3 linked regions of the Homo sapiens genome follow. The protein of the gene in region 1 interacts with the protein of each later gene in a biochemical or structural test. Each region holds a gene or a part of one and is shown in the gene's direction. Other genes may lie near its edges. The genes, in order: NSRP1, CNR1 and CNRIP1.

What was found.
Region 2: the proteins of NSRP1 (region 1) and CNR1 form a complex in vitro, tested with the Homo sapiens proteins (one study listed by BioGRID).
Region 3: the proteins of NSRP1 (region 1) and CNRIP1 form a complex in vitro, tested with the Homo sapiens proteins (one study listed by BioGRID).

The regions. Positions count from the first base shown.
Region 1 is NC_000017.11:30,179,599-30,188,538, forward strand, and holds the end of NSRP1 (nuclear speckle splicing regulatory protein 1), read left to right. Parts: intron 1-1,309; coding exon 1,310-1,418; intron 1,419-5,016; coding exon 5,017-6,076; 3' UTR 6,077-6,877; downstream 6,878-8,940. UniProt on the Homo sapiens protein: RNA-binding protein that mediates pre-mRNA alternative splicing regulation.
Region 2 is NC_000006.12:88,160,222-88,172,946, reverse strand, and holds the start of CNR1 (cannabinoid receptor 1), read left to right. Parts: upstream 1-6,599; 5' UTR 6,600-7,144; exon of another isoform or gene 7,145-7,200; intron 7,201-8,652; exon of another isoform or gene 8,653-9,990; intron 9,991-12,725. UniProt on the Homo sapiens protein: G-protein coupled receptor for endogenous cannabinoids (eCBs), including N-arachidonoylethanolamide (also called anandamide or AEA) and 2-arachidonoylglycerol (2-AG), as well as phytocannabinoids, such as delta(9)-tetrahydrocannabinol (THC).
Region 3 is NC_000002.12:68,307,757-68,319,536, reverse strand, and holds part of CNRIP1 (CB1 cannabinoid receptor-interacting protein 1), read left to right. Parts: 5' UTR 1-136; coding exon 137-315; intron 316-2,219; exon of another isoform or gene 2,220-2,229; coding exon 2,230-2,380; intron 2,381-11,780.

The DNA.
Region 1 (8,940 bases):
TATAACGCCATGGCATTTGTCAGAAACAATATAAATATAATTTTAAACCCTAGTTACATTTTTTTGGGATGAGAAAATAATAGAGTAACACCACTCAAGGAGGATCAATGAGGCAATTAGAAAAAGAATAACATTAATTGAAGAAAGAATAAAAATTGGATGAATTAAGAATATCTTAATGCTTTACCTTAGTGCTTTCTACTCATGATTATTTCTCAAGATCTAAGTAGAATATGTATTTATAAAATACTTTTTTTTTTGAGACTGGGTCTCTGTCACCCAGGCTGGAGTGCAGTGGCTCAACCATGGCTCACTGCAGCCCTGACCTCCCAGGCTCCAGTGATCCTCCCACCTCAGCCTCTTGAGTAGCTGGGACTACGGGAACATACCACCACGTCTGGTTACTTTTTGTATTTTTTGTAGAGACGGGGTCTCACTATGTTGCCGGGGCTGGTCTCGAACTCCTGGGCTCAAGCAATCTTCCTGCCTCAGCCTCCCAAAGTGTTGGCATTACAGGTGTGAGCCACCATGACCAGCCCTGTAAATACTTTAATTGACAAATGCTCATCAGCTTTTTGGACAGAGTCTCGCTGTGTCGCCCAGGCTGGAGTGCAGTCGTATGATCTTGGCTCACTGCAACCTCTGCCTCCCAAGTTCAAGTGATTCTTATGCCTCAGGCTCCCAAGTAGCTGGGATTACAGGCATGCACCACCACACCTGGATAATTTTTATATTTTTATAGAGACGGAGTTTTACCATGTTGGCCAGGTTGGTCTCGAACTCCTGAGCTCAGGTGATCCACCCACCTCAGCCTCCCAAAGTTGTAGGATTACAGGCGTGAGCCACTGCGCCCATCCTCTTCAGCTTTTAAGTAGAAGAAAACCAAGTCTATAACATTCTGTCTAAGCATGTACTATGTGTTTAGAGTGCCAGTCGGCAAACTTTCTGTAAAGGACCAGATAGTATTTTAGTATTCATATTTTAAGACTTTAAATTTATAAATTCATATTTTGAATGCCAGATCATATTCATACTTTAGGGCTTTTTGTGTATATGATCTCTGTCGCAGTTACTGAGCTCTGCCTTTGTAGTACAAAAGCAGTTGTGGACAATACATAAATGAACAGGGCTTTGTTTCAATAAAAATTTATTTATGAAAACAGGCAACAGGCCAGATTTGGCCTGCAGTTTGCCAACTCCTGATCCAGCGAGTAGTTTACACACTGTATGTTATATACTGTATGTCTGTAAAATGAAACTGCACTGTGCCTTATTGAATATATTCTAATTTTTGCTTTCCCTCTGTTAGCATGTTTGGATGTAACCAAGCAGAAAGATCTCAGTGGATTTTATAGGCACCTATTAAATCAAGCAGTTGGTGAAGAGGAAGTACCTAAATGCAGCTTTCGTGAAGCCAGGTGAGGAGACGTGTATGAAATATTTTGAAGAAAAATACTGTTAATAATCTGTGGTTGTGGGGTCATTTTAACCCTCTGAAAGATGGAAGATTACAACATTGCATATTGTGTTGTCAGCCAGCCTTACCTAACTGAATGAATGGCTAGAAATTTGCAGTTTCTTGATTTTAAAACCTACAGATTTAGTTTAAGATCATTTTTATTCTGCATTTCACAGAAATTGTTACATTAAAACAGTGATTGAGTTTAATATTATTGTAAAACCAAAGACAGACTTTTAATGTATAAAGTTTCTGAATTTTTAAGTGATTTATGGGTCTTAACAAGGGAGAGCAAAATCTTCAAGGGAAAGCAAAATCAAATTGTAGTTTTTTCTTTTTTCTTTTTTTTTTTTTTTTTTGAGGCAGAGTCTCACTCTGTCGCCTAGGGTGGATGGAGTACAGTGGTTCAATCATAGCTCACTGCAGCCTTTGCCTCATGGGCTCAAATGATCCTCCCAAGTAGCTGGGACTACAGGTGCAAGCCATCATGCCCAGCGAATTTTCTTTTTGTGTTTTTTGTTGTTGTTGTTGTGTGTGTGGTTTTTTTTTTTTGTTTTTTTTTTTTTTAGATGGAATGGAGTCTTGCTCTGTCACCCAGGCTGGAGTGCAATGGCGCGATCTCTGCTTACTGCAACCTCTGCCTCTCAAGTTCAAGGGATTCTCGTGCCTCAGCTTCCTGAGTAGCTGGGACTATAGGTGCATGCACTACGCCCGGCTAATCTTTGTATTTTTAGTAGAGATGGAGTTTCACCATGTTGGCCAGACTAGTCTCGAATTCCTGACCTCAGGTGATCCACCCGCCTCGGCCTCCCAAAGTACTGGGATTATATGCATGAGCCACCACGCCCAGCCTCTTTTTGTATTTTTGTTGTGGAGATGGGGCTTTATGTTGCCCAGGCTGGTCTTGAACTCCTGGGTTTGAGGGATCCCCCCTCTATCTCAGCCTCCCAAAGTGCTGGGATTACAGGTATGAGCCACTGCACCTGGCTGCTTTTTTTTTTTTTTTTTTTTTTTTAAATAAGAATGTGGGTATTCCTCATGATCCTTAAAATGATTGGTGCCTGGTACCTTAAAATGATTTTGCTGTCAGAATTAAGGAGAAAGTTGGAAAGAATTAGGTGTCTACAATATAAGTCTTATATACATGTTCAGATAGTGTATAAAAAGGAAAGTGGTTTGTTTTCATAAATAGAACCCAGCCTTCCTAAAATGTAAGACTTACATATCGGGGCTAGAACTGCACTGTTAGTATGTAGGCACTAGTCACGTGTAGCTACTTAAATTAATTTAAAGTAAATAAAGTAGGTTGGGCGCAGTGACTCACGCCTGTTATCCCAGCACTTTGGGAGGCTGAGGCAGGTGGATCATGAGATCAGGAGATGGAGACCATCCTGGCCAACATGGTGAAACCCTGTCTCTACTAAAAATACAAAAATTAGCTCGGCATTGTGGCACATGCCTGTAATCCCACCTCCTGGGGAGGTTGAGGCAGGAGAATTGCTTAAACTCGGGAGGCGGAGATTGCAGTGAGCTGAGATAGCGCCACTGCACTCCAACCTGGCGACAGAGCCAGACTCCATCTCAAAAAATAAAATGGCTGGGCACGGTGGCTCATGCCTATAATCCCAGCACTTTGGGAGGCCAAGGCGGGCGGATTGCGAGGTCAGGAGATTGAGACCATCCTGGCCAGCACGGTGAAATCCCGTCTCTACTAAAAATACAAAAAATTAGCCAGGCGTGGTGGCGGGCGCCTGTTGTCCCAGCTACTTGGGAGGCTGAGGCAGGAGAATGGCGTGAACACAGGAGGCGGAGGTTGCAGTGAGCTGAGATTGCGCCACTGCACTCCAGCTTGGGTGACAGTGCAAGACTCTGTCTCAAAAAATAATAATAATAAATAAATAATAAAATTAAGTAAATAAAATTTAAAGTTTTGATCACAGCGGCCACATTTCATATACTCAGTTGCCATATTTGGCTGGTGGTTGCCATACTGGGGACAGCTCACATATGAACATTACCATTTCTTGAGGCATTTCTATTAATGCTGGTCTAGAAGGTAAAGGATTAGAGGATTTTTGAATAAAGTTATAAGGTATTATAGGAATGGTGAGATGATTATGCCATAATTATGTAGCTGAAGGTAAAAGAGTCTGTCCTAAGCAAAAAAAAAAAAATTTTTTTTAACAGGAATGTTCTGGGTAGATCTGAGTCTGTGTTGCTAAGGAAGGGAAGAGGTAGGAGAATAGAATTAAGGTGAGGAGAGGAAGTTTATGCCCCACTCCCTCCCTACGCTGCTAGGCTTTGATTATAAAATTGGTGAGAAGTATGAACCTAAGAAAATGTATTTGAAGATTCAGGTTTTGAATGGAAATTATATTACGTTATATCTTTGTATTAGAGTTTCATCTGGAATATTTATTAGGCTGCCATGAAACTCTGTAATGTCGTTGACATAGTTGTACTTCTTAGAGTCTAATAATCGAATTCCTAACTGTTAGTGGGTCCTTTAGCCAAGATAGTTCTGCCAGTAATTCCTGGAGAACCAAAGTTGTTGCACCATTAGTGTGATTAGTAAGTGATTAGTAAGAATCACTGAGTGGTTCTTATTTACATTATACTCATACTATAAAGTTAACTGTACTTGCCAGCTGGAACAATGAAGGTAATATAATTTTAGTATTGTTGATTCTAATGGACAAATTAATATATTTCCATTTTGTTGTGATAGGTGCCAAGGAGTGAATCAGGATACACTCATGAGAGAGAGTAAATATTTAGGATTATATTTGCCACTATTTTGCTGTGCAAAGATTATCTTCATGTATTTCTAGGACTATTTTTATAATTTTTTAAAAAGAAAAAGGCCAAGCATGGTGGCTCACACCTGTAATCCCCGCACTTTGGGAGGCCAGGGTGGTTGGATCACCTGAGGTCAAGAGTTTGAGACCAGCTTGGCCAACATGGCAAAACCCTGTCTCTACTAAAAATACAAAAATTAGCTGGGCATGGTGGTGCAGGCCTGTAATCCCAACTACTCGGGAAGCTAAGGTGAGAGGATCACTTGAGCCTGGGAGGCAGAGGTTGCAGTGAACCGAGATTGTGCCACTGCACTCCAGCCTGGGTAACAGAATGTCTCAAAATAAATAAATAAGAAAGGAAACAACAAATCCAACAGTCACAACTTAAGCTTCATGTTGTGAAAATAGAACTTAGATTCAGAACATTTATTACTTTTCCCAATTATTCTTTGTCTTAGGCTTACCAAAAAATGAAGACCTGTACAGACCCTTGCCTGTAGGTTCTAGTAGTATAGTAGACAAGGGCTAATTTTCTCTTTTCACTTCTACAAATATTGAAAATATTCTGAATGGTATGAATTTGAAAATACTAGTTTGCATAGACATCAGGACCTTTTTGCATTTGGATAATCAGACAGTATATATCACTATAGGTGTATTGATTTGAGTATTGATAAAAATTATATGAACCCTTCATTTGCTTATTACAACTGATAATGTGGCATTTTTTTCTGCCCTTTTTTGTTTTTTGTTTCTAAGATCTGGTATAAAGGAAGAAAAATCAAGGGGCTTCTCCAATGAAGTAAGTTCAAAAAACAGAATACCACAAGAGAAATGCATTCTTCAAACTGATGTGAAAGTAGAGGAAAACCCAGATGCAGACAGTGACTTCGATGCTAAGAGCAGTGCGGATGATGAAATAGAAGAAACTAGAGTGAACTGCAGAAGGGAAAAGGTCATAGAGACCCCTGAGAATGACTTCAAGCACCACAGGAGTCAAAACCACTCTCGGTCACCTAGTGAAGAAAGAGGGCACAGTACCAGGCACCACACGAAAGGATCACGAACGTCGAGAGGACATGAGAAAAGGGAAGATCAGCACCAGCAGAAGCAATCCAGAGACCAAGAGAACCATTACACTGACCGTGATTACCGGAAAGAAAGGGATTCTCATAGGCACAGAGAGGCCAGTCATAGAGATTCCCATTGGAAGAGGCATGAACAGGAAGATAAACCAAGGGCGAGGGACCAAAGAGAAAGAAGTGACAGAGTATGGAAAAGGGAGAAAGATAGGGAGAAATATTCCCAAAGAGAACAAGAAAGAGATAGACAACAAAATGATCAGAACCGACCCAGTGAGAAAGGAGAGAAGGAAGAGAAAAGCAAAGCAAAGGAAGAGCATATGAAAGTAAGGAAGGAAAGATATGAAAATAATGATAAATACAGAGATAGAGAAAAACGAGAGGTAGGTGTTCAGTCTTCAGAAAGAAATCAAGACAGAAAGGAAAGCAGCCCAAATTCTAGGGCAAAGGATAAATTTCTTGACCAAGAAAGATCCAACAAAATGAGAAACATGGCAAAGGACAAAGAAAGAAACCAAGAGAAACCCTCTAATTCTGAATCATCACTGGGAGCAAAACACAGACTCACAGAGGAAGGGCAAGAGAAGGGTAAAGAACAAGAGAGACCACCTGAGGCAGTGAGCAAGTTTGCAAAGCGGAACAATGAAGAAACTGTAATGTCAGCTAGAGACAGGTACTTGGCCAGGCAGATGGCGCGGGTTAATGCAAAGACCTATATTGAGAAAGAAGATGATTGATGGCTACCCCAAGAGAAAGATTTAAGGAAGCACAGAAAACTGTAATTCCTGGAACCTGCTGCGTAAAACCATAAAGGAGTGTGTTACCAGTAGTTTGGAGGGCATTTTTAAATTTATTTTCAAAATTTTAAGTTAAAAGTCAGTCTTACAGCTTGGATGTTTGGATGTGGATGTTTGGCTGAATTTATATATAGTGTGTACTCATCAATACCACATTCTTTGTTGTATTCAAGAACCGTTAAGAGTGTGCTAATTCCCTGTAGGTACATAATGAGGAAAATTTGCTCCACTACAACCATTAAAAAATAATTTTGGCCAGATACGGTAGCTCGTGCCTGTAATACCAACATTTTGGGAGGCCAAGGCAGAAGGATATTGAGGCTAGGCATTCAAGACCAGCCTAGGCAGGATAATAAGACCTTGTCTCTATTTAAAAAACAAAAAGCCTAGCATGGTAGTCCATGCCTGTAGTCCCAGCTGTTCGAGAGGCTGAGGCAAGAAGATCACTTGAGCCTAGGAATTTGATGTTACAGTGAGGTATGATCATGCCACTGCACTCCAACCTGGGCAACAGAATGAGACCCTGTCTCTAAAAAATTTTTTTTAAATAAATAATTTAACTCTTCTAATAATGTTTTGTTGCAGGAAATGTATTTCAGATAAAATATGGATTTGAAAAACAGAAAATATACTTTATGTTCTGAAATTTGTATTTAAGTATAAAATGTGAATCATCTTGTCTAAATAGCTTACAGCATAGTTGGCTTAAATGAAAATAAAATGATATGCTTATACATTTTATTTATGCATTTATTTTAAAATAATTTTACTCATGTCACAATTCATCTTTTCGCTTTTAGTAGAAATTAATTTGTAATTCTGAAACCTTGACAAGTTAGTAAATTGGTTATATATGTAAATCACTTTTAGTTAAAGGTGAAGCTGTGGAGACATTAGCCTAAATGAAATTAGCTAAAGATCTAGGTGGCCTGTTTCTAAACATGTCTTGTTTCACCTACTCTGAAAAAGATAGTGCAGTTTATTACAAGTTCCACTTGTGTATAAAAATAAAACTAGTATCTTTCTTCTGAGTCTTTGAAACTCAGGAGAAATAATTATACACTGTAAATATTTTATTTATGGGGAAAGATGAATGCTGTGGAGAAAATAGTTCTCTACTAGGTCTTCCCATTAAGAAAATGCTGTTCATATATCTCACAATACTCTACCTAAAGAGCACACTTTCTTATTTTTAGAAGGATAAACTTGGTTTAATAAGAATGCTGACTAGATGAAATATATTAAGGGTCAGATTTAGAATTTATAAATCATTTTATTGTACCTTTAAAACCAGAAAGGAAAAGTCACAGGAAAGTTAACGCCCAAATCTCTGACTGATAGATTAAATGTCAGTTACATCCTAATACTCTAAAGTCAATCAGTGACAGTGACAAACCCCCAAAATCACTGACTTGGTGTACAAAAAGGGAGCAACATAACATCAGTATGGAAAGGTAAAAGGGTGACATCATGGAAGGACCATGAGTGACAGAAAAAATCTTTAACTTTGGTGGGGAGTATGGTTTCTTTCTTGGGATTGTTTTATAACTAGAGCCATGCATTGGGAAGATTAATTTGATCGTAGTGTGCAAGGTAGTCTAGGAGGAGAGACTGATGTCAGAGACATCTGATGATAAACTCAGTTTCCCTCTCCCAGAGGGAAAAGCTCAGAGACTTTTACAAAGCCGCTTGGATCCTTAGATAGGAAAGCTATAAATTACTTTTATTAACCAACTTAATTTGACATAAATCAGGATGAGAGACTGCAAATGAAGAGTTTTCTTCTGTCTCCTCCAAATATACAGAATGTTGGTTTTGCCTCTCTGGTATTCATTCCCCCTTTTCCTGGTAACAGCAGGATTTGCCTTTGAGAAAACACACCTTTACTACTCTTAGTCCACGGGTTCAAATGGGGCAGAATAGCCTACAGTAAGGGTATGTGACTCAAGCTAGGCTGATGCTGGTCATGTTGTCAGAATTTACAGAAAGATGTTTTCTGTTGTCATTGCTGATTATGGCGATGAGGTAAGTCTGGAGTTTCATGGAGAGTGCCTTGCTGCCTGGCAGAAAAAAAACCCACAACAAGAAAGCCAGACAGAGAGAAGAACAAAAAACCTGATGATTGCTTTTGCATCTCTGGCTCTAGTGTAGCTTTTTTTTTTTTTTTTTTTTTTTTTTTTTAAGACATTTAAACCAATACTTTTCCCTTTTTCTGTTAGGTTAGTTTGAATTGGATTTCTGCTGTCACAACCCAAAAAGTCCTATTTGATACAAGGTTCCATTCATGATAGCTCTGTGCCAAAAGTTACCAGAACACTCTTAGTAAATTTTTTTGTTGTAGTATAAGGTTTAAATTGCACATGGAGTTTACAGCTTAATGGATTCACACAGTACACCTAGTTTAAAAAGACATTACCTGTGCCATAGGAGCTCCCCTTAAACTTCTCTCCCAGCCTACTCTTTCTGATTTTTAGCACCTTAGAGTAGTTTTGCTTGTTTTGTAGATTCTTTACTACTACATTCTGTTGATGGACATTGGTTATTTCTTTTTGGGGTTATGAATAATAATATCTTCTAGGTAATGTATCTTCTAGGTACATTCTTGCGCTTGTCATCTAGTACATACATGTATGTTTTGGTTGGGTAATTCTGAGGAATGGAATTGCTGATTCATAGGGTATGCTCATGTTGAGCTTTAGTAGTTAACTACCAATTAGTTTTCCAGAATATTTGAACTAAAAGGCACTCCCTCCATCAATGTATGAGAGTTCCAGTTGCCCCACATCTTGCTCACCCTTGGTATT
Region 2 (12,725 bases), on another chromosome or scaffold:
AATACATGAGATCATATCTGAGAAATTATTAATAGCTCCTAAATTAACTTCTCGCATGGGATTTCTGCACTTACAGTTGTTCTTCTGATGCCTGAGAACCACATACAATACAGAGATAAAGTTATAATTATTTTACTCAATGCCTACTATAGGGAGAATATGCAGCCTGAACGTTCAGCAACCCCAGTTTTGAGAAAAAGGATATTTTTAGAGGGTAATAAATTGCATGTTTTATAGATTTTTATGTATAAGGAAGCTATGTTCTCTTAAGTTGAAAAAGTAACCCCCAGTGGGCAACAGTTTGCAGGATGTAGTAGCAATAATCACAGGTAGATCAATGTCTTCATCCACTTGGGCTACTATAGCAAAAACCTGTATAATTACTTGGTAATTTGGAAATAATAGAAATTTATTTCTCACGGTTCTGGAGGCTGGGAGGTTCAAGACCAAGCTGTGATGGAAGAGATGAATGTTGTGTCTTCTCATGGTGAAAGAGGCAAGGTAGCTCCCTTCAACCTGTTTTATAAGGGCACTAATCCCATTCATGAGAGGAGCCCTCATGACCTAATCCCCTCCCAAATCTTCCCACCTCTTAGTACTATCATGTTGGGGGTTAAGTTTCAACATATGAACTTTGGAAGGACGCCAACACTTAGACCACAGCAATCAGTTAATTCGCAGCTTAAAAATCATCGTGCCATGAACTAAAATTGCTTTCAATACTTATAATCATGCTTTACATTCATCTAGTATTCTGGCTTAAGAGTCTTTAACTTGGTTATTAACACATTACATCCTCTTTTATGGGCCTTCAATACAAAAATCAGTGCTGTCGAAGCTCTAAGATTCACAATTTATTTATTGTTCTTTCTTGAAATAAGAAGAATAATTAAAATATTCTATGTAATTTGATACAACTAAGAAATTAGTGGACCATTAAATCAAATAAATTATTGATAATAATTGTTTGAATTTTTCTTGAAGCTCTACCAATATATTTCTACCTTATTAGATACTCACAAACACTGTATAAAGGAAATTAGAGATATTAGTGTTATTCCCATCACACAGAATAGAAAAATGAGGCCTAGAAATGGTGCATGATAGCCTGGGCCATCAGCACCAGAGCTGGGGGTAAAATCTATATCCCCAAATGTTCTCAAATCTCCACTACAGCCTGTCTAAATTAATGGTTCTTTAAACAAAAAAAATTCAAAAACAATCTGATCCTTTCAATTCTTCAATAAGGCCTAAACTGTACCGGTTTCTTTAACAATGTTTTAGATACAACAAGCCAGACAAGACATCCAAAGATAAACCGCACACCCCATTGGCTTTTGCCAATTCTCATTTTTACTGGCAGCTGCATTTCAAGGAAAAGCTGGTGAACTGCAGGGAGTAGATAATGGTGGCTTCTCAAGGTATCAGTACATCTAGACCACTGTGCAAAGCAGATAATCTACAGCATCTGTTTAGAATGGGAGAGACAGCAAAGAAGTCACAGCTGAGCCCCAAGAAACCCTCAAAATGTGAGCACTTTGTTTATGAATCAGCTGCCTGCTCTATGGCTTGAGAATTAAAGAGCCTCAGCCAGGCTGTGGTCCTCTCCATACACTTAACACAGATGCAGCAACAGTGTAGCAGAAGTTGTGGGAGAAATAAAAACAGCAATCACTGATTGAGAGTCTAACTTCCAGGTACCAGCCTGGTTGTTTTATGTATATTGTTTCATTTAATCCTCATAGACCAAGATAGATGGTCATTTCTTTTTCTTTTTCCAAGCTTCTACCTGAAGTTGAAATAAACCATGAAGAACACCAAGAAGAGAGTTTACTCGGAAGGCCAAGTGATTAAGAAGTACATATCTTTTAGTAGTATGTTTCTATTCTTTGCCGTATTTTAGCATTATAATACTGCTGCTTGCCCTATTTTTTAAAAGTGAAATATTTAGACATATAATATTTATAGCCTTTTAATTGGAAAGTTTTGATGACTCGTTTGTAAGAGTTTAATCAAAGGAGAACAAAAGCTTTATTAACCTGCCTCCTCACCCCCCTTCTTTGCACGATGTGCTTGTTTATTATCTGTTGGAACATACTCCTCATATGGTTTGAAATGAAAGGATGATCCATCTCCTCATTACCAATCCTCTGCTTGGTGATGAAAAACAAAACAAAACATATGAACAAAGGAAAATGCCTTCCTGCCATTTCTCAGCCTTCCCTGTGCTGCTCAGCTGGGATGTTAAAGATCTGGATTTAATGAAAGAAGGTGAGAAGGTGAACGACAACAACAAAAAGCCCTAATGAGCGAATATTTAGTTATACAGGAAGATCACTGAGAAGTGGCAGCAATTTTCTTTGTACCTAATACAACGCAGTATCTCCCAAGGTCAAACAAGCCCATGGCCCTTCCTTCCTTACCCATTCATTGCCTACCCTGGCAACCCACTTCTCCACCTAGAGCAGGTCTCACAAAGTTTAATTTCTGACAGTTGAGTGAAAAAGAATCTCTTTTCCAACACCAACTTGTAGTTCTTGAGAAGCACGCAGAAGTGGTGCAGGAGTTTCTTTCAGTTGCTCGCATCGCTGGTGGAGCAACTCACGAGCAGGCATTTCAGACCTTACGCTGTGGATGGCAGAGCCCCAGCCCAGTCTGCAGGCTTACTGACACTTACCCTTTAGACTGGGAGTGAAGAAGCAGATTCCCATCTAGTAATGCAGAGCCACTGAAAAACAAAATGCTTCAAGGGAGAGCCAATAACAGCTGTCGAAACTCTAAAGCAATGCTCCGAATTAGAATGAAATCGTGTAGTCATAATATCATTCCTAAAATGTCCTTAATCAGTGAGCGTTCCAGCCCTGTAGTGTGAGCATCACACTGAAAATACCAAAGAAAACGTGAGGACCAAACTTGGACCGAACCCCCAAAACTCTAAAAGAGAGTGATGTCGCTTTCCAAACCAGGAAATCATGACTCATCATCCCCAACAGACCACCCATTTGGGGAGTGGGAGAGAAGCACGACAAACCATGGCAAGTTAAAAAAAATAAAATAAAACCAAAAACATCTTGAAGTAGAGCTCCTTTTGGATCCACAGCTATCTCACCAAAGCAGACATGTTTCCTTGATGCTCTATGGCCAGTAGAACTCTTAACACTTTGGCAGGCATAAATTGAGATCTTTCTTTGAAGTTGAAATATGCAGCCTTAACTGTGCTCTCATCCTCTACATTTCACTGAGTGAATAACCTAAATTACACAGAACGGCAGTAAATTGGCTCATCATAGCCCTGTTCTAATTTTAAAAGGATAAGGATCTGAAAAACCAGGCAGCCTAGCACTGAAGGGACTACTGAAGCCTGTTCAGGGGCTGCCGGGGCATTTCCTCAGAAGGTCATGGATTCAAATTCAACCTGGGTTTGTGGTGACCAAGAGCCATTCAGCACTTCATGTTAAATTTATGAATGCTCTCAACATAATGTTCCTAATAGGGAGGCTGACAGCTTGCATTTGTCATTCTTGCTGACTGTCTCAGGAGTACAGTGGATGGCCAACCACATGTGGAAACTAAATCATTTCCTCCCACATAAAGGTGATCCTTGCAAAATGTGAACTCCAAGGTACCGAAGAGCATCTTTCCCTCGCACCATCTGCTGTCTGATCTCTGCCCCTCTTCCAGTTGCCCCAATCCAAGGAAAAAGTACAGCAGCTCTCCTGTCTGTCAGTCTAATACCTTGACGAAAATTTAAAGATGCACATGAAGGCCCACAAGAACAGTATTTGCCAAGGAACATAACTCTCTTGTTTTTGACACAGCATTCACTTGTGGTGATAAAATGCCAGGTCATAAGTCAAATTTTGACTCCATTACTGATTATTATCCTTGAGCTCTAAATGGAAAGTCAGTACAATTCAGCTGTCAGGCTCCAGGTTTCCCCCAACCCTGAACAACAGAATAACAAACTAAACAGTTATCTCGGCTGGAGTCACTACTAGATGAGATTCCGAGTGATTGGCTCTGGCCACAGGTCACACTGGCCCATCAACGATCTTAGGTTTCTGCTTGGAATTTCATAGAATTCAGTGAAGAAACCCAACGTCAATCAGAAGATATTTGGGATGACTTAGAGACACAATAATCAGATTGTTCCTCTTTATGAAAAAGCAAAAGCTGGTGTGGCTGAGTTGAGATACAAGATTTCCATGGAATACCTTTCACAGGTTGATGCTGACCACCACGAAGGTATAGATCAACATGTGGGAAAGTGCTCCTTATAGAAGGAGCACCACCAGGGTGTGTCAGTGTTGTTTAGCTGAGTGATGTTGAACAGCTCTGCCACTCCAACAGCTCACGCCCTCCAGCTACAGGGGAGGGTGGTAGCACCCAAGTGAAATCCTGTGGCCTGAAAGCATTCTAGGAGTCCAGCTCCCCCAGGTTTCTTGTGACTGAAGATGTCCTTATCACAGTCAGAGGAAGCGCTGCCTTGATCCTTTCTTTTAATTACTAGCAGTCATTTGAAACTGAGCTGCCAGGTGGAGGAGAGACTTTGAAGTTATTGTCATCTGGCCTCTTGGGAAATCAGAGTCTGCGAGGTCATAAGGAGAGAAAATTTTTGCAAATATTTCCTACTGCCAGGGGTGTGAGGTGAAGGGAAAATCTAACAACCACGACCCCTAAAAGAAAAAAGCAACAGATGTTGAAGCCTCCTCCCTTTGAATCTTGCGCTGGAGCTGTCTCTGCCATGGAGGTGGGCTAAAAATGCCTGTGAGTAGAGCCTTCCCCAAGCAGCAGGGTTAAGGCTCAGCACTAATCCCACATCTACTATCTATCTCCCAGTCATTCTTCCATCTATCGATGGGTCCATCAGAACTTTATTGATAACCTTTTCTAACCACCCACCTAGTAGGACTTAATCATTTCAGCGGTGGACTCTCTCTCTCAATGGAGTCAAATGGTCATTTGCTTGACGGAAATACTTCTAGTCTAAAGCAGTCTAGGGGGATTTTCAAAAACTGCACTAGTGCTCTGCGGGAAGCCTTTGTACGATTTGGCCTGACGTTTCCAAAACGGTTTTACAGCCTTCCCTCCTCCAGGACCTTGAACTCAACAATCTTCCTTCTTTCCCTGAGAGGCTCGCTTTCACAGATTCTCACCACGTAGTTCAAATATAGGGTCCAGATATAGTACGGTTGCTGTTGGGGTCTGATCAGGGGCGGGAAGACCTGGAGGTCGGTAAAACGGAGCGGTGCGGGATGATGTCTGGGAACACCGGCAAGGTGTCATAAAATGAACGCCAAGGCGGCCACAAGAGGACGGCCGGGAACCGAACCCAGCGCCCAGCACGGGGCCCTTGTGGCCGACGTGACGTGGCTCCGTCAGGTGGAAACCGTGCGATCCTCTCCCGATCCAACTCACGAGAGATAAAGATGTCTAAATAACCACGACCGCCGCCGCACACCCTGCAGGGCCCCGGGGGCGGAGGGGAGGGGAGCGCCTCCTCGGCAGAAGCGGCGGCCCAGGCTTGTTTGGAGGTTCGCAATTCACCATGATAAATGTAAAGACCAATTAAGGTTTGATCCGTGCACACAGGAGGCAGACGGCGGCTGATAGTGGAAACAATTAACGAGCATGTCCCCTAATTCCTGCCGCGGCTGCTGAGCACACCGCGGCTCCCCAGGCGCCCGCCGCTGCCGCCCCCGAGTCCCAGAGCCCCCAGTCCGGCCCTGGAGTGGGGCGTCCTCCTCCAGCGAAAAGGTGCGAGGAGCGGGGCCCCGGGTGGCCGGGGAGGGGGCGCGCCGGGCCGGGAGGCGCGGAGCCAGCCGCCTACGGAGCCCAACTGTTTGCATCGGGGACCGGCGGGCGGGGCGCGCCCGAGTGGTCTCGCCGGGAAAGGGCGGCGGGCGCTGGAGAAGGCGCCTGGCGCGAAGCTGGGCGGCGCCCCGAGGGCGGAGGACAGGTGGCCGCGCGACCGCAGCCAGGTAGCGAACGGCTCGGGGGCTGCGCAGCGCGGTCCCAAAGCTCAGCCCGGCCCCGGGCCCAGCTCGCTGCCGCCTGCCACGGGAGCGGCCTTGCGCGGAGGGAGGGGGCGCGAGACCGCACCCCCGGGCCCGGCGCGCCTCGGCCTCTGGGCTCCCGCTCCCCTTCCCCTTCCGGCTCAGCCCGCTGCCCCAGACGTGACCCCCGCGGAAGGTGTTGGCGATGCGCGCTGCCCGGGAGCGTGTGATTAATGGCCCCGAGGTCGTGGGCGGCGCATGCACCAGCCCCTTCTTGGCCTGGTCAGGGTGTGAGGGTATCCGGGAGCACAGCGAGGTCATGGCAGCGGGGGCCTCCGGGAGCGCGGCGGCGGAGGAGGAGGAGGAAGAGGAGAAGTAGGTGACGCGGGCCGAAGAGGCTTGTCCCCTCTGGCCCCAGGGCTGGCGCCGCGGCGGGTCCCCCGCCCCAAGCAAAGTTTGGGGCTACGGGCGCTGCGCTCAGGTCCCTCCCCGCGCAGTTCCCTCGGCGGGGTCTGTGCCGCCGCCGCTGCCAGGGCAGGACAAAGGCTCATTAACACGTGATGGGACCGCGCTTCATAAATGGGACTGGAGCGAGAGGGAGCCAGAGACAGCGCGAGCGGAGGGAGCGGCAGGGACTGCGCGAGCGGGACGAGGCGACGGGCGCCCGGGCTGGCGGAGACGGGCGGCCCCACGCCGGGCCAGGCGGGGCTCGCGGGAGGACCCAGTGAAGAGCCTGGGAAGGGGCGAGGCTCGCCGGCGGTCGGAGCAGCGGGGCGCCAGTCCCGGTCGCTGTCGCGGGCGGGCGCTGGAGACCGGGACGCCGGCGCTCGGACGGACTGACTTGCTGACCGCCCGCCGGAGGCACACCCCACTCCACCCCACCCCGCCTCGCCAGCAGCCCGGCGCCGGCGCCGCCTCCCGCACGCTACTCCCTCTGCCACCCCTTCCTTCTCCACTTCTTTTCCGCCTCCGCCTCTTCTTGTCTCCCGCGGCGCCAGCGCCTTCCCTTGGCCCGGGCGGGGGCCTCGGCTCCCTGCAGAGCTCTCCGTAGTCAGTGGGGGATATTTCGTTCTAGCGGACAACCAGCCCCTGAGCTGGGCGAGAGGTGCCAAGGGAGCTTCTGTCCCGAGGACCAGGGGATGCGAAGGGTAAGACCTGGCAGAGTTGCGTTTGGAAATACTTTTTCCGCCTCCCGCCCCCTCGGGTACGACCAGTGTGGTCCCCAAGTGTCCTTCGTGGAGTTCTTATTCCGTGTGAGCGAATCGTGCGTCGGTGTTTACTTAGCTGTATGGCCCCAGCCTGTTAACTGTGATCTGTTCTACTTCTGGAGATTTCTACCATTTACTATTTATTGAATGTGTGTGCACCTGGCTCTGTATGCACTGATGTCTGTTTGTAGAAAATGGGTAATTGTGCATGTTTGAAAAACGGGCGCTTGAGTTGGTGCTGAATGCCTATAAACCATGTTAGCAGCTAAGTCTTCCCAGGGAAATACATCGATCTCTGCTGCAAGCCTAGAAACTGACTAATGTAAAATAGTAAATGTCATATAAAGAGATGTATGTCAAATAATAAACTTTTGATAAAAAGCTACAGGAACCACTTCTCTTTGAGGAAAAACAAATGTCCATGTAACTAATACCTAAAATTGAATGTTGATGGAACCGTTTAACTCAGAACTAGCTGTTAGATGACTAAAGTTAATGTTGCATTTTTAAAAGACATTTCTTGTTAAGGCTTACAAATCATAAACGGATCACCTCTCAAATAAAAATATGTTTGCTGTAATAGACATGAGAAACTGTCATTTGGTCATTTGGAAGTTTAAAAGCAACATGCATGTTTCTGATTTTAATAGATTGTCTCTCAGATATTTAAAATTGAACAGATAAAAAAACAAAAGAAATGTTTAGTAACGTATTAATCATTTTGCCTCCCATCTTTTTTTATTTTCCTCCAAATAAGTGCTATTCTTGCCTTTGTTGTTGATTTCCTGATATAGTAAGCCTCCTCGGGCATGTAATCCAATAAGAGATTAGAACAGATTTACTGGTTTTAAAGGTGTTGAAAGATATCTCTGTGGGTCCCATAACTTCTCCTCATTTTTATTACCAAGTTAATATCTTTTGAACAATGGGGGAAATGCAATTTCTTAGAGGAAGCTTAGCGGACACTGAGTATTAGTGGGGTCACCACTGACATCAATCTATTTTGCAGAATATTGAGAAGCTCAGAGCAACCAACCTTTAAGGTTCCCATAGGACTTTATGTGATTTAAAGTGTTGCTTTTCTAATCCTACCCTACTGACAGTTTGCAAGGGAAGATACACTAATTGATTTTTCTCTGTCCTTTTTTTCCCTGGTACTCCTCCCCCTCCCCCGCTCTCTAACTCAGTTAAGAGCAATTTTATAAAAATAAAAGGCCATTTATAGTTTCTTAAGTGAGACAAATTACTTTCAGATTATATCCATACATGAGCAGAAGACATGCACCTCCAGAATTTTAAACATTGCATACTACAGGCACTTATTTGTAGGCACAATGGCAGTTACCATAGTGGGGCAAGAGACTTGATGTGGGACATGGTTTTAAAAAACTAATCCATTTTAGCTTATCAGGAGAACTTACTGTAAACCGACTCTTTTTGTTTCAAAGATGTCTCCCACTCCAGGCGAGGAGCGCTCTTGGCTGAGGTATGTATCAAGTGTCTGATGGGGAGAGGTCTCATTGTGTTTCTCAGTGTCCATGGGGGTACAATGATGCCACAAGGTGGAAATACCCAATTCTGGCCTTTCACAAATAAAATTACTGTGCTTGCATACTCGTTGTTAGGAAAGCAAATTAGATATTCATGCCCCTGAATTTTAATAACATTAATATATGTATGTAAAAAGAATGTTATGACTAGAACCTTAAATAAGCCATAAGTGATTATTATTTAGTGTGTAAAGTTTTAAATTCTGATGAACACCAGGTCTCACATTGAAGTAGTGCTTGGCTTTGTTTGTTATCCACTGTTTTCTGTCTTTTTCTGTTACCCATTTCCCAGTGGACCATGTTCCTCTCTGTCTTGCCTGTGAGATTGCTCTTCTCTAATAAGCCTAGCTGCAGGATCAGTGTGTTCTTTTTGGCATTTCAAAATGGTAAAATAGTGAAATTGTTAAATGTTACCAAGATGAAACTGCTGGGAATGAAATTCTCAAAAAGAACCACTGTATTTGTGGCATATTTCAGCCTCTTCCAAAAGAAAACTCTTTGATTCGGTTTACCTATTTTCCCAAGAAGGAAGCAGCCCCATTGATTGTGTTGATAAGTGTTTAGTATGCAGTGTCAGCTTATTAATTACTAAGGCAAAGCCTGAGAAACTGTTTCAAAACAGTCGTATAACACTGTTCTTTGCTTTGACTCAAAATTAACATTAACCACGGGGAAATTTAGACAGGCTTCTTGGTTGTCTTGCATATTAGTGTTTGGAATTAGAAATCAAATACTTTGCTATGTAAGAATAAACTATTATGAGATGGAACTTCTAATAGCAGTTTATAGTTCACCACGCTTACCAAATGTTTCTTACCAGAAAACAGTTGGCCAAATAAGGGATTATTTCCCATAACTAGCTATCCAGGAATGCTGCAAAAACAAGAGTAACAAATTGAATTGGAAAATACCTAATGACACATAACTAGCAAAATGAAAGATTTGGTTATAGCTTCTTGAATTTATAAGAATTCTGGGTGAAAGTTATTGCTTCTTTTATTCCAGGAAATATTTTGGAGAAGTCTGAATTGATCTATGTTATAAAGTTAATCCAGTCTAATCTAAGAATATACAGTGAATTAAATGCTAATTAAAGCAATTAAAGCATGATAACAGGCAGTAACCTAAAGGACAGGCTCCATCTTACTTACCAAATTCCATGTTAGCTCAGTTGCATAAAGAACATAGATGAGAGCTTTCATTCCCTGCTGAAAAGGATGCCATGCCTCCACCAGTGTAAGTCTGTTTCTTCTATTTTTGTATTTATCATTTTCTAATTGAACTGACAAATAGTTAGAGTGAAACCAGGCTTTGGGTTTAAATTATTTATAATTCTGCTGTTGGCTCTAAAACAATGTGGACCCAACATTGTTTGAAACACTGTGCTAGGGCCAGGTTTACATACTGCATATCTGTATTTTGAGAGGCAGCCTGCTTTGCTGATTTTTCTCTTATATACTGAAGACTGGTAGAGAAGTCAAAGAATAAGAGGAAATCAAAATCAGTTTATATACTTTGTGTTGCCAAAATTTTAACTTCATGTTTTCTTCCCTGAATCTCCAGTTCTTTCCTAATCTTATCCTCAGAGAAATGGTAACTTTATATTATGGCTGCATGAATGCTGCTTTTGGGGACTTGGGGGATTCAACTTTTTGCCACTGAATTGCTAGTTAATACTTTGATAAGCATTTAATTCTCTGTATATTCTTAGATTAGATTGGATTGACTTTATAAATTCAGATTTCTCCAAAATGTTTCCTGGATTAAAAGAAACAGTAACTTCACCCAGAATATATGTATAATATCAAAGTATATATTGCGTAATTTTGGACACCTGGACATAGAAACACACTTTTATTTACATGTATAAACATTTTTATAGATGTAAATCATGACTGAAATAAAAATTTAAATATGTTGCCTTTATACATTTGAACATGTAATTCTGATTTTAAATAAATACTACAAATTTGGGGAAATGTCCGCATTCAAAGCAGCTGTGCAGATGGACACTGAAGAGTTAAAGCAGATATCCACCTTGAATGGAAACGAGGCCATTCTTGTTTTCCAGGATAGGTGGAAATCCGTGCCAGTCCCATGCGTTCTAAGAATCTTGCAAGTATGCCAGGGTGAACATCACCACATTTGATTATAATTTTATCATAAACACTGATGGGTTTAAGACAGTTTCTTTTTAGCCAATCCTTTTAGTTGTTTATTATTTTTTGGAAATTAGGGCTGTACAAGTTGGAGGAAAATACAGAAGGTTATTACCATATCTCAGAATGCATATTAAGATAGTTATAGTTTTTATATATAACACATTACAACGTTACCACAAGTGAGTTAAAACTATAGGAAATTTGTTAGGGGGGCAGGTTTGTAAGGTGGGTGATTTTTAGTAGACGCTGTCACCTCTCTTGCTGCTTTTGAAATTGTTTGATGTGAGAGCAAGCAACTTCCATCTCAAACTTGCTCACATGGCATGTTTAATACATATTGCTAATAAGAGGTCAAAGTCATGACATAAAGTAGTGTAGTTATCTTTAGTTCTTATCAAAGTATTTACTAAAAGCTTTCCTGGATTATATTTCTTGATTTAACAAGGCCCCATAATGAAAAAAAGTATATTTTTTATAATAGTTTAGAGGACAGTTAGTTGCATGTATATATTCTTGATCTAGTTTCCATTGATATTTTCCATATATTTGAAGTATTTTCCATATAGATGAATTAATAATGGACAGCCTCTAATTTAAGTTTCACTTGGACAGGTTAAGCTAATAACTTAATCACCATGGAATTCTCGAGGTTCATAGTTTGTATGGGTTTTTGAGGGAAGAATTGTTTACTCCCAAAACCCGAGCAAATGGGCATGGCAGAGTCATTGCAGTTGTTCTGGGAATACTATGAATTGTATTTGAGCCCCAGCTGGAGAAATGTTCACACCTGCACTTTAAGAAAGCTTTCAAAGTTTTGCTTTCTTTGCTTTGTTTTCTTTTGTTTTTGAATATGTAGAGACTGGTTAGATGGAAATCATTATTTTTGAGCAAATTCTTTTTTAACCCATTGTGCTATTGCATAATATTCTATATTTTTGAATGTTTTCAAAAGTACATTTTGCATTTTTTTGAATGCAAGAATTTAGTTTGCCTTTTCTCTCAACACAAAAGGCAAATAAATTTGCCCTAAAATACAATATTTTACTACTTAATGTCTTATTTTTCCACTCTTATTTGGATTCTTAATTAATTAGGAAATTATGTTTTTCAAAATTTATGTTTAAATGAGAGGGTCCCCCTCTTTCCTTCACCATTTCTTTATTCATTCTTTTAGATCATAACTTTAGAGAAGAAAATTGGAATCAATATGAGTCCTGAAAATTGAGTGAAGTTTTAAGGAGTATTACATTCAAGCTAGCGATAAATTCTAATATGCTTTTGAAAAAACAAATTCTAGTCCAGGCGCGGTAGCTCACGCCTGCAATCCCAGCACTTTGGGAGGCCAAGGCAGGTGGATCACTTGAGGTCAGGAGTTCGAGGCCAGCCTGGCCAACGTGGTGAAACCCCTTCTCTACTAAAAACACAAAAATTAGCCGGGCATGGTGGCATGTGCCTGTAATCCCAGCTACTCGGGAGGTTGAAGTGGGAGAATTGCTTGCACCCAGGGGACAGAGGTTGCAGTGAGCCAAGATCACTCCACAGCACTCCAGCCTGGGTGACAGAGTGAGACTCTGCCTCAAAAAAAAAAAAAAAAAGAAAAGAAAAAAAATTTTTTAAGTTTGTTTTAAATAAATTTCTACTTATATGGACGTTTGTACTAGGTAATTCATAACATTGATTTCTTCGGGTCAAAAAGCTAAAAATGATGTTTTTATTTATTTATTTTTAATTAATTTATTTTGAAATAGAGTCTCACTGTTGACCCAGGCTGGAGTGCAATGGCACAATCTCGGCTCACTGCAGCCTCCG
Region 3 (11,780 bases), on another chromosome or scaffold:
CTAGCGGCAGCCTCAGCTCCACCACCTCCCTCACCCTCCCCGCGCTTCCTCTCCGCCCCTCGCGCTCCAGCCACTCGGCCGCAGCCGGCGCTGTCCTCCGCCCCCCGGAGCCGCCGCGCCAGACCCTCGCCCAGACATGGGGGACCTGCCGGGCCTCGTGCGCCTCTCCATCGCGCTGCGCATCCAGCCTAATGACGGCCCGGTCTTTTACAAGGTGGACGGGCAGCGCTTCGGCCAGAACCGCACCATCAAGCTGCTCACCGGCTCCTCCTACAAGGTTGAGGTGAAGATTAAACCCAGCACGCTGCAGGTCGAGTGAGTGCGGGGCGCCTGGTGGCAGCAGGGTCCCCCATGGGGTACAGGCAGAGGACTGAGGCCCCCAGGACAGCCCGAGCCTCTCAAGGGCCTCTGGCCTCGCGCCGCTCCCAGCGGGCCCGGGGGTTGGAGGAAGAGGTCACTCCCTGTCCGCCTTCGTCCCCTTCCTTCCCTTTGGCTTGTATTCCTCCATTCTCGCTTCCCTCCACCCATCGCAGTGACCTCAGTGGGTTCTTTAAAATCAGTGACAAGAAGCCAGGGTTTTTGCTTGTCTGTTTCTTATAAATTTCTCCTGCCTTCTGTCCAGCCTTGGGCGCGGAACCGCAGGCGGTCGGGGTGGAGCAGATGGGAGAGGTCCGCAGGGTTCAGCCACCGCAATCCCAGCCCTCCTGCGCGCGGTCCAGGCGGCCCACAGGGTCTGCCCGCAAGGCTGAAGGAGGGAGAAAGGAGGAATGAGGTGGAAAGGCAGGGGAGGGGTGATTACTGGGGCTCCCTGAGGGATGCTCCCCACTCCCTTCGCCATTCAGTGGCTGGGACCCTGGGGTGGAGCAGCAGACACTAGTAAGAGAGCGGCCGCCCCTTCTCTGGCCTAGTTTCACGGTTTTCCATGCCGTATGCTGTTCTTTTTCTCCTGAGTTTTCTGTTCAGGCTGGTGATGGTGCCTGGGATTAGCAACATCCCCACAGCAAGAGGATGTTTTTTGGTTTATCCATGGCAGGGACGATTTCTTGCCAGCGACCGCTGGATAATGCACCCAGTAGACCTCTGGCGGGAAAGTGTGTGGGAGCATGCAGTAGCCTACCCGGAAGAACTGCGGGTGGAGCCCCTTTACCTCTCGTTTCTACCTACCAAAGTCTAGTCTGCAGAGAGAAAATAAACCAGCATTTATTGTATCTACTACATATGGTGGGCATTATTGCGGGGGTGGAAGGACTTTGAATTCATCAGATACTACTTATAGCTTACGTTTTAATTCAGTAAACTTGTATTAGCCTTCCAAGGTGCAAGGACCTAGAACCAAATCTGGATGGTTTCTGGTACTCCTGATTCATCTATTTGTCAGCATCCCCCACAGCTCCATGCACCCTTTATTCTCACATTTCCCAGTGTTCTGTGCACCTGGATATAATCCAGGCTTTTCCTTTCCCTTCTTTCCTGCCAACCTTATCCCCGGAGTTATCTGTTAATATATTTCTTTTTTTTTTTTTTAGAGTATTCCTCTAGTGTTCAAACTAATCTAAAAGTTAATTTGTTAGGAATAAAACTATTTTTTCTGGTTACATTTTAATGCTATCAAGGATTTCTCAACTCTAATCCTGTGGTTCTCAAACCTGAGTATATATCAGAATCACCTGGAGTGCTTGTTAAAACACAGATGCTGGAGCTCTCCCTAGAAGTTCTAGTTTAGTCTATGGTAGGGCCTAAGAATTTGTTTTCTAAGGTCTGCAGGTGATGCTGATACTGCTGGTCCAGGGACTTGGCTTTGAGAACCATTATCCTAACACAAAAGAATGATGCCAGTGAGAATTTCTGATGGTGTAGAAGGCTTGAGGTACTCCAAATCATAGGACCCCTGATTGTTGGAACAGGAGAAAAAAAATATTAGAGGACGAGTTCAGTATTCTCAATCCTACCTGCATATTAAGATCACCTAGATAACCTTAAAATAAATGTACCAGTGTCCAAACTACATCCCAGGCCAACTGAATCCTAATGTCTGGGGCTGGGGATAGGTAGGTTTTTAATTCATAAATAGGAGAAGCACTGCCCCCTGAACTTGCAGAACTTTCTCCCGCACCACAATGCCCCCCTTAGTGAAACCCTGTAAGTTTCCTGCCTAGAGTTTTGGTCCAAAACAGGACAGGGTGCCTAGGCTAATTTCAACCGTATGTGGTCAACTCAAGTCTATTGCAGGAATATTTCCATTGGTGGTGTGCTTGTCCCACTGGAACTGAAGTCTAAAGAGCCTGATGGGGACAGAGTTGTTTATACGGGTACATATGACACAGAAGGTGTGACCCCAACGAAGAGTGGAGAACGGCAACCCATCCAGATCACCATGCCGGTAAGGCTTGCTTGCGGGTATAGGAGTATGGTGCCATGGAAAATGGAAACCACAGAAAAGAAAACAATCACTATCTCTCTGTAAGAAAAGGTGTGTTGGGAGCCAATTACTGTGGAAATTGAGTTGTGGATTTCCTTCAAGCATCTGCTGGAGAGAGAACTACTTAATTAATGCTCTTTTGCATGACAGACTGACCCTGTAGATGCTGAAAAGACACCATAAGCAGAAGCAGATGGTTCTGGAAGAGACAGAACCTACATTGCCATTTTCCCAGTTATAGTCTACTTCAGAACTGGTTTAGATAATTGGCTGTGAAAAGTTTCTGATTCCAAGTAGGCCACAATATTCTGGTTAAGAGAAAGCTGATTTGAATGACACTTTGCTACTTAAAGCTAAATGGAGGAGCCAAAAAAAGTGTCATGGGAAAAATACACCTCTTATATAATATCCTATAATACACCTATTTTATATAATATATACCTATTATATATACACCTATATAATATATATATACCTATATTATATATACCTATTATATATAATATCTGGTAATCCTATCAGATATCATATATAATAAAATGATATACCCTGGTAATATGGCCCCAAGTAAGAAAAAACAAATTGGTAGAAAGGATAGAGTCAAGACATAGATTTAACTATATGTGCAAACATAATAAATAGGTGATGAAGCAAGCTTGCTAAAGCACAGGAAAAGGAAGCTTCACCTAAACTGCTGCTTGCAAACTGGGCAGCCTTTTCCCTCTGCAAGAACAACCTTCAACTGTCTGCCCTCTAGCTTTATAGGAAGTATCACAAGGGTTCTCAAATATCGGTATGCGTGAGAATCTCTTTGGGAGTTTGTTTAAAATTCCAGTCCTAGGTTCCCTCTCCAGTGATCTTAGCTCAGTAGAGCTAGGGTGGGGACAGAGAAACTCTTAGCAAGCATACCAGATCCTGAAGAGGATGGTGTGGGAATGCACTTTGAGAAATGCCTATCTAACCTTTGGAAACTTAAAGTGTTCCCAGTCCCCATTATACTTTTTAAAACCACAATAGTCACATAAGGAAATAATCTAGCAGCTCATCCCTTTGCATCCAATGTTTGAACTATTTTTAGAAAGTGCTCTTGTTCTGTCAAAGAACCTTCAACACAGAAAAATACAAAAATGAGGGAAATGTATAATTCCTGCAAGAGAGAAGTGTTGTTAACATGTCAATAAATGTTCTTAGAAAGTTGTTTCTATGTCTTTGAATATATATGTGTGAGCCTGGGCAACATAGTGGGACCCTGTCTCTAAAAAAATTTTTTTTAGTTAACCGGGTGTGGTGATACCACACCTGTAGTGCCAGCAACTTGGGAGGCTGAGGCAGGAGGATCACTTGGATCCAGGAGGTTGAGGCTGCAGTGAGCTATGATCACACCACTGCACTCCAGCCTCGGTGACAAGAGTAAGACCCTGTCATTAAATATATATATTTGAGTATCATTCCATATATATACTTTTTTCTACTTGTATACATCTTTCAATGTCAAATATATGCCCATATATATATATGGAATGTCATTTTAAAGTCTGTATGGGTATTGTATTTTATGAATGTATCAAATTATCCTCAGTCACTTATTGCTGATTATTTCTGGTTTTCGGTATTATAAACAAAACCACATTACAAATCACTGAGTACTGTACAATTGTCTAATGTTTTCTTGATTTCTAGAAGAAATGTGCACGTTAAGGCATTTTATAAGACTGCCTCACTGACCTCCAGAAAAGCTAGGCAATTTACACGCCTATCATCTGTATTTAAGTATCCATTTCTCTCTGCACTAGGTATAGTTTGTCATGTTTACATATTTTTAATCTGACTGAAATACTTCAATTTTTACTTACTGTTAATTTGAAATCCTGACATATTCATTTACTATTTGTATTTGCTTCATGGATTATATGTTCATAGTTTTCACCCATTTTTCTGCTTAAGTGTATCTTATTGATTTTTTGAAAAATCTTTATAAATTTAAAATCGTCATTTTTATCACATCTTGAGTGTTCATTTAATATTTTAATTTTTATTTTGTTTACAATATAAAATATAAATTTTGTAGTCAAACATGTTAGCCTTTTCCTTTATTATTTTGCAGTTAAGATCCAGCTTAGAAAGTCTTCCTTGACTCCCAGATTAATTAATTATATATAGACATATACACAGTGGCATTTGTGTATTTTCATCTGAACTCTTATGGTCTCATTTGTTAAATTTTAGATGAATTACAGATTTAGATATTATTTCAGTTCTTACTTTTATATTGGAAAGTATTTGCCCACAGTGTCCTAATACAATTATTTAAATAATCTATGCTTCTCCAAAGGTCAGTTTCATAGAAATTTCTTATATTGCAAAAATTTTATCTCCTCCTATACTCCCTAATCTATTCCATTGATCTATCTATTGTTACACCAATACTGCATTGTTTTAGATACACTGTTTTTATAATATGTATTCATATACTTTGTAACTGACCACCTTACTGAACTTGCTTACTAAAATTTTTCAGCAAATCATCTTGGGTTTTTCATATAGATGGTCAGAATCTGAATATAACTGTCTTTTTTTTTCCTGGTCATATTGCATTGTCTAATGTTTCTAGAATAATGTTGACTGCTGCTAGCAGTCAACTACAGCTAGTAGCAGTAGTTGGAGATAATTTATCTTATTTGATATATTTGATGAATTACATAAAGTAATACACTTCCAAATACTAAACCTTATTTTTTACAATAAGCCCTACTTAAACATGTATTATTAATATATTGCTAAATTCTATATGCTCTTTTATTTAGAATTTTTAGATTTTTAAAATTTGCTTGCTTTATCAGCAAATATTTGAGGATTTCCTGTATATCAGGGACTCAGGGGGAAGAGTGGTGAACAAAATAGATAACCCGGGTTTCATAGAATTTCTGATCTTGAGGGTGGAAACATACTTTATACATGATTATCAATGATAAGGTAAATAATTGCTAATATGAAAAGTATAGCAAAAAAGTAGTGCTGTTAGAGTATATACCAAGGGTCTTATCCTAGTCCAAGATTTGCGGGATGGTTTTCTTGAGGAAAAAATGAAGGATGAATAAGAGTTGAGGAAAGAAAGAGCATTTGAGGAAAGAGTAGTTGTAAAAGTCAAGAGCTGGAGACAGCGTATGTATTCTAATGGATGAGAAGCCCAACATGGTGGGCATAGAGTGAGGCAAAGACAGTATAAGATAAAGCCAGAGAGGTAAGTAGGGGTTGGATGATATAGAACCTTTTTGCCACTGGATTTATCCTAATGACTATAGGAAATCATTGAAGTTTTTGAAATCAGCTTTGAGATATGATTAACATAAAATGCACCAACTTTACAGTTACATAGGTTTTGACAAGTAGATGCTACTATATAATCACCACCCCAATAAAGATAACAGAACACTTCTATTACCCTGAAAATTATTTGCAGTTAATTCCTCCCAACCTAACCTATCCTGAGCTTGCCATCTCAATATGTTAGTTTTAACTATGTAAGAATTTCATGTAAATGGAACAGTGCTGTTTGACTTCTTTCACTTAGTATAATGTTGAGATTCACCTATGTTGCACATATCAGTAGTTGGTTCATTTTATTTCTGGGTAGCATATTATGTTGTGTGGATATACCATAATTTCTCCCTTTACCAATAAATGGACATCTGGGTTGTTTTCAGCTTTTGCTATTATGAATAAAGCTGCTGTGAACATTTGAGTATAAGTCTCAGTGTGAACATATTTTCATTTCTCTTGAGTAAATACCTAAGAGGACAATTGCTAAATCACATGGTAAGTATGTGTTTATCTGTGTAAGAAATATCCACACTGTTGTACCATTTTGTATATCCACCAGCAGTGTATGAGAATTCTAGTTGCTTTACATACTCAATGTATGTCTTTTTAATTTGGAAATTCCAAAGACATAGAAGACCCAAAACAATCTTGTTTGATCTATATTGTAGTCCTTAAAACAGGTAGCATAAATCTTCTAGCTTTGTTTATTCTAAGTTCTTTTGCTTAATCTAGGTCCTTTGTGTTTTATATAGATTTTAGAATGAGCTTGTCAATTCCTCCAAAAATTGGGATATAGAGTTTCCATTAAACCTATAGGTCAACTTAAAGATATTTGACATCTTAATATAGAGTTTTCTATACCATGAACATGAAATATCTCTTAGGTCATCTTTAATTTTCTCCACAATATATTACAGTATTTCCTCTACAGACTTTATACATATTTTGTTAAATTTATTATTTCATATTTTTGAATAATGTAAATGGAATCTTTGCTGGTATATGGAAATAAAATCGATTTTTTTTGTATATTGATATTGAATCCTGAGACTTAGCTAATCTCACTAATCCTAATAGCTGTTTTTGGAGGATCCCTAGGATTTTCTAAATATGCTATCATGTCATCTGTAAATAGTTTCTCTTTTCTTTCCAATCTGTATTCATTTTATTTATGGCCTAATTGCAATGGCTAGGACCTTCGCAGTATGCTGCTAAATAGAAATGGTGAGAGTGGACATTCTTGTCCCTCAGTCTGAGAGAGAAAGCATTCTGTTTTTCAATACAAAGTATAGTAGCTGTAAGGTTCTTTATTGTAAATCTTTTTATCAGGTTAAAGGAGTTCTCTTCTATTCCTGGTTTACTGAATGTTTTTTTAATCATGAACGTATTATAACATGTTTTCAAATAGTTTTTCTGTATCTTTTGAAATGATCATAAGGTGTTTTATTCTGTTTATGGTAGATTACCTTGCTTTTTCAAAGTTAAAATAACCTTGAATTCCCAGGTTAAATACCACTGGTCATGGTTTATTCTCGGTATGTAAAACTGGATTTGATTCATTAATATTTTGTTAAGGATTTTTGACATCTATGTTCCGGGGGGGATATTTGTCTATGGTTTGCTTTTCTTATAATGCCTTTGTCTAGTTTTGGGTATCAGAGTAATGCTGGCTACATAAAATGATTCGGAAAGTGTTCATTCTTCTATTTTCTGGAAGAGTTTATATAGAAATGATATTTTTCTTAATGTCAGAATTCACCAATGAAGGCATAGATTATACTTTATTTGAAGATTTTTTATTACAAATTCAATTTCGTTAATAGATATCGGGCTATTCAGGTTTTATTTCCTGAGTTTTTGTAATTTATCTTAGAAGTCATTTATTTCAATTAAATTTTCAACTTTATTCCCATAAAGTTGTTTATAATCTCCGCCATTCTTCAGTGTCTTAGGATCTCTAATAATGTCTACTCTTTTACTCTTTGATCCTTTTCTTTTTTTTTTTTTTTTTTTTTTTCCCCGGAGATGGAGTCTCACTCTGTCTCTCAGGCTGGAGTGCAGTGGTGCAATCTCGGTTTACTGAAACTTCTGCCTCCCAGATTCAGGCAATTCTCCTGCCTCGGCCTCCCAAGTAGCTGGGATTACAGGTGCGCACCACCATACCCAGCTAATTTTTTGTATTTTTAGTAGAGATGGGCTTTTGCCATGTTGGCCAGGCTGGTCTCGAACTCCTGGCCTCACAAGATCCGCCCACCTTGTCCTCTCAAAGGGCTCAGATTACAGGTATGAGCTGCCGCGCCCGACCTACTCTTTCACTCTTGTTATTCAAAATTTTTATTTTTATACCCTCTGATTAGTCTAGCTAGAGATTTCAGTTTTATTGGCCTTTTCAAAATCCTAGCTTTTTTTTTCACATGCTTCACTCTGTTTTTCTACTTCATTGTTTTCTAATCCTATATTTATTCCCTTCCCTTGTTTGCTTTGAAATATTTTAACTTAAGTATAATACATATACAGTAAAATGATCCCTTCATAGAGTTCTTTCTGCTTGTCAGTAGTTTGGTTATGATGCATCTTAACTGGTTTTTCCCCCCTTGGGGATCACTGAATTTCTTGAATCTAGAGGTTAATGTTTTCACCAAAATTGGAGTATTATTAACCATTGTTTTGTTAAATACTTTTTTAATACTTCATTCTCTCCTTTCTTTGTAGGACCCCAACTAAACATATGTTGAAAAGCTTGGTATTATCCCATAAGTCTTTGAGGACATGTTCAATTTTCTTTCTTTTTTTAATGGATCTTCAGATTAGATCATTTCTACTGATGTATCCTTAAGTTCACTGATTCTTCTATTTCTAGTCTTGTGCTTATCTTCTAAATTCTATAACATTTTTTAGCTCTAGAATTTTCATTTGTCTTTTTTATAGTTTCAGTTTCTCAAGATTCCTTATGTTGGCTAATTGAGACCATGTTTTCCTTAATTTATCTGAGCACATTTGTAATTGCTGGTTTGAAGTAGTTAATAAATCCAACACCTGGCTCTAGTTAGAGTAAATTATTACAGCCTGACTTTTTTTTTTTTTAATATGGGTCACACTTTCATGTTTCATTACATGTCTCGTAATTTTTGGCCACAAACTTAACATTGTGGATAGTTTATTACCAACTCTAGTTTCTGCTTTATTCTTCTGGGTATTACTGGTTTTTTGTATTCTAGCTGGCAGTAAACATTCCTGTACTCAAACTTCAAATTCTATCTTCCAGCAGTATGCAGCAGCTGATCTCTTTGCTCAGTTTTTATAACTTCCAGTTGCTGCTTTTCTAGCCTGGTCTCCTTTTGTGCCCATGGAGCTTAGCAGTCAGCCAAGGAACTGGAGAGCTTATACTGAGATTTTTGGATATACCCACCCTGAGGTTCCCCTATTTCTCCAGCTGCTCTATCAATCCAAAACTGTTTTGCTTTATTTGAGATGGAGTTTCACTTTTGTTGCCCAGGCTGGAATGCAGTGGTGCGATCTCAGCTCACTGCAGCCTCCACCTCCCAGGTTCAAGCGATTCTCCTGCCTCAGCCGCCAGAGTAGCTGGGGCTACAGGCGCGTGCCACCACACCTGGCTAATTTTTGTATTTTTATTAGAGACAGGGTTTCACCATGTTGGCCACGCTGGTCTCGAACTCCTGACCTCAAGTGATCCACCTGCCTCGGCCTCCCAAAGTGCTGGGATTACAGGAGTGAGCCACCGTGCCTGGCCAATCCAAAACTCTTTACTCTGATACCTACTTCTGAGGTTAGGGAATGTACTCAAAATACATGCATGCATACATACATACATACATACATACATACGTAAATATAAAGAAGCTATTAATCTTAGCACAACTTTATCTTTCAAGGATTGACTTTTTGCTGGTTTGTCTGCTTTTTCAATGGCCCCTGTAGGGTGTCCATGTCCCACTATCCTTCATATGCAGTTAGCTAGGGATTACAGCAGAGTTTATAGTCAGATTTGGGGTTCTATTCCTTCTGCAGATCTCTTTCTTCCAGGATTTTTCTAGGTTATTTCCAGCTTCTCTGCCAGTCCTGATGCTGTCTTCTGCCACTTCCAACAGATAGGGCTGTCATTTTCTCCTGCCAGTCTTTCAAGGGGTTGAGAAGTACCCCTTTCTGGTAATGTGATAAGATAGGCACCTTAAAAGCACTCTAGTGCCAGTGCTTAGATTAGAAGTGGAGACAGAAAAGCAAAGAACAATTAGAAGGCCTTTGCAGTCTTAAATTTTGGTATTAGGGTTAATAGCTTTGTGAAGTGAATTAGGAACTTTTTTATAGTTTATGCTCTGAAACAATTTACATACCATAGAACTTAACTGTTACTTGAAAGTCTGACAGAAATTTCCCATAAAAGTCAGGACCAAAAATAAAGATATTTAGAAGGAATGTCTTGAATTCTCAATTTAGCACATGACTTTTGCCTTTTGGGGGTTTTATTGAGTGACTATTATGTTTTTCTGAGGAAAACATCCATTTCTACAGAATTTTAAAATGTATTTTTAGACCTCTAGAAATATTAAATGCTACTGATAGACCAGTTAAGCCATCAAAAACAACACCCTTAAACAAGTTTAGAAGCACTTTAACTGAGTTGCACATTGACACTGGGCTTTCAAAGGTTATGAAAGTTTGCTCTAAGAAATAGCTGTGTGTAAAAACAGCTCACAGCTAAATGCCCTAAATGTTTCATGTGGAGTGTTTTCATTTTTATTTTTGTTTTGTTTTGTTACAAATTAGAGCTAGAAAGGCTTTTTAACTTTTTTTTCTTCTGGGAAACTGAGAATATTTCTCTCCCTTCTAATGATGAGATGATTTAACTCCTTTTTCGGACTGTTTTCTGAATTCTGGATCCACCTGAGATATTTCAGTGCTCACTGAAAGGGGTGGGGAGAGGCAGGCATCTCTCTTGTTCATCTAGTCATGTGCTGTCTTATTGGGTAGAAAAAAAAAGTTCTGCAAAAACATTAAAATCACTGATAATTGACAATCTGTGTTTTTTTAATTTTTGCACCAGCAACCAGACAGCCCAGCATCAAATCTAAGCTCAAACCAAGCATTATGTTTAATATGCTTATATTTCAGACCATCATTATGTGTGTTTTTTCATTTTATATAAAATGCTAAATACCTTCTTAAATTCTTTGTAAAATGATATAGGTATAAATATATAAATTAAGGTTAAATAAGGTGGGAAAGTTAAATTATAAAATCTAAAATTACGGAAAAATCAAAATAGACTAGAAAAGTTAACTTGATTTTTAAATAGAAATCATAAAGAAAAATAAGAAATTATGTCTCTACACAGTATAAAGTGAGAATAAAACAATAGAAATATGACACTTCTTCAAGAGTCTGTGATATTTTAAAAATACCAATCTTCAACAGAAATATTGACAAAACATTTTCCAGAAGAAGAAACTAAGTTAAAATGTAGAAATGTGCATTCTTGTAAATGGTAGTGAAAAGTAAACTAGGAAATCTATTTTTTAAAAGTAATTCCCAATGACATCGGGGGTTTTTTTTGTTTTGTTTTGTTTTGTTTTGTTTTTTTAATAAGAGACAGAATCTCACTCTGTAACCCAGGCTAGAGTGCAGTGGCATGATCATAGCTCATTGTAACCTCAAACTCCTGGGCTCAAGAGACCTTCCTGCCTCAGACTCCTGAATAGCTGGGACTACAGCCACATGCCACCACGCCAAGCCAATTTTTAAATTTTTTGTGGAGATGGAGTCTCACTATGTTGCCCAGGCTCATCTCAAACTCCTGCGCTCAAGCAATCCTCTCACCTCAGCCTCCCAAAGTACTGGGATTACAGGGGTGAGCCACCACACCTGGCCCAATGATATCATTTTTCTAAACAATGCCTTCTTTGCTGTTAACATTGTAAGATTGTTTGTATACTTTAAAAGGAGCAAAATGGTCATATGTGGGAACAGCCATAGAGATTCATTTCTTTTGACCAAATAATTCCACTCCTATTAAAGTAGACAT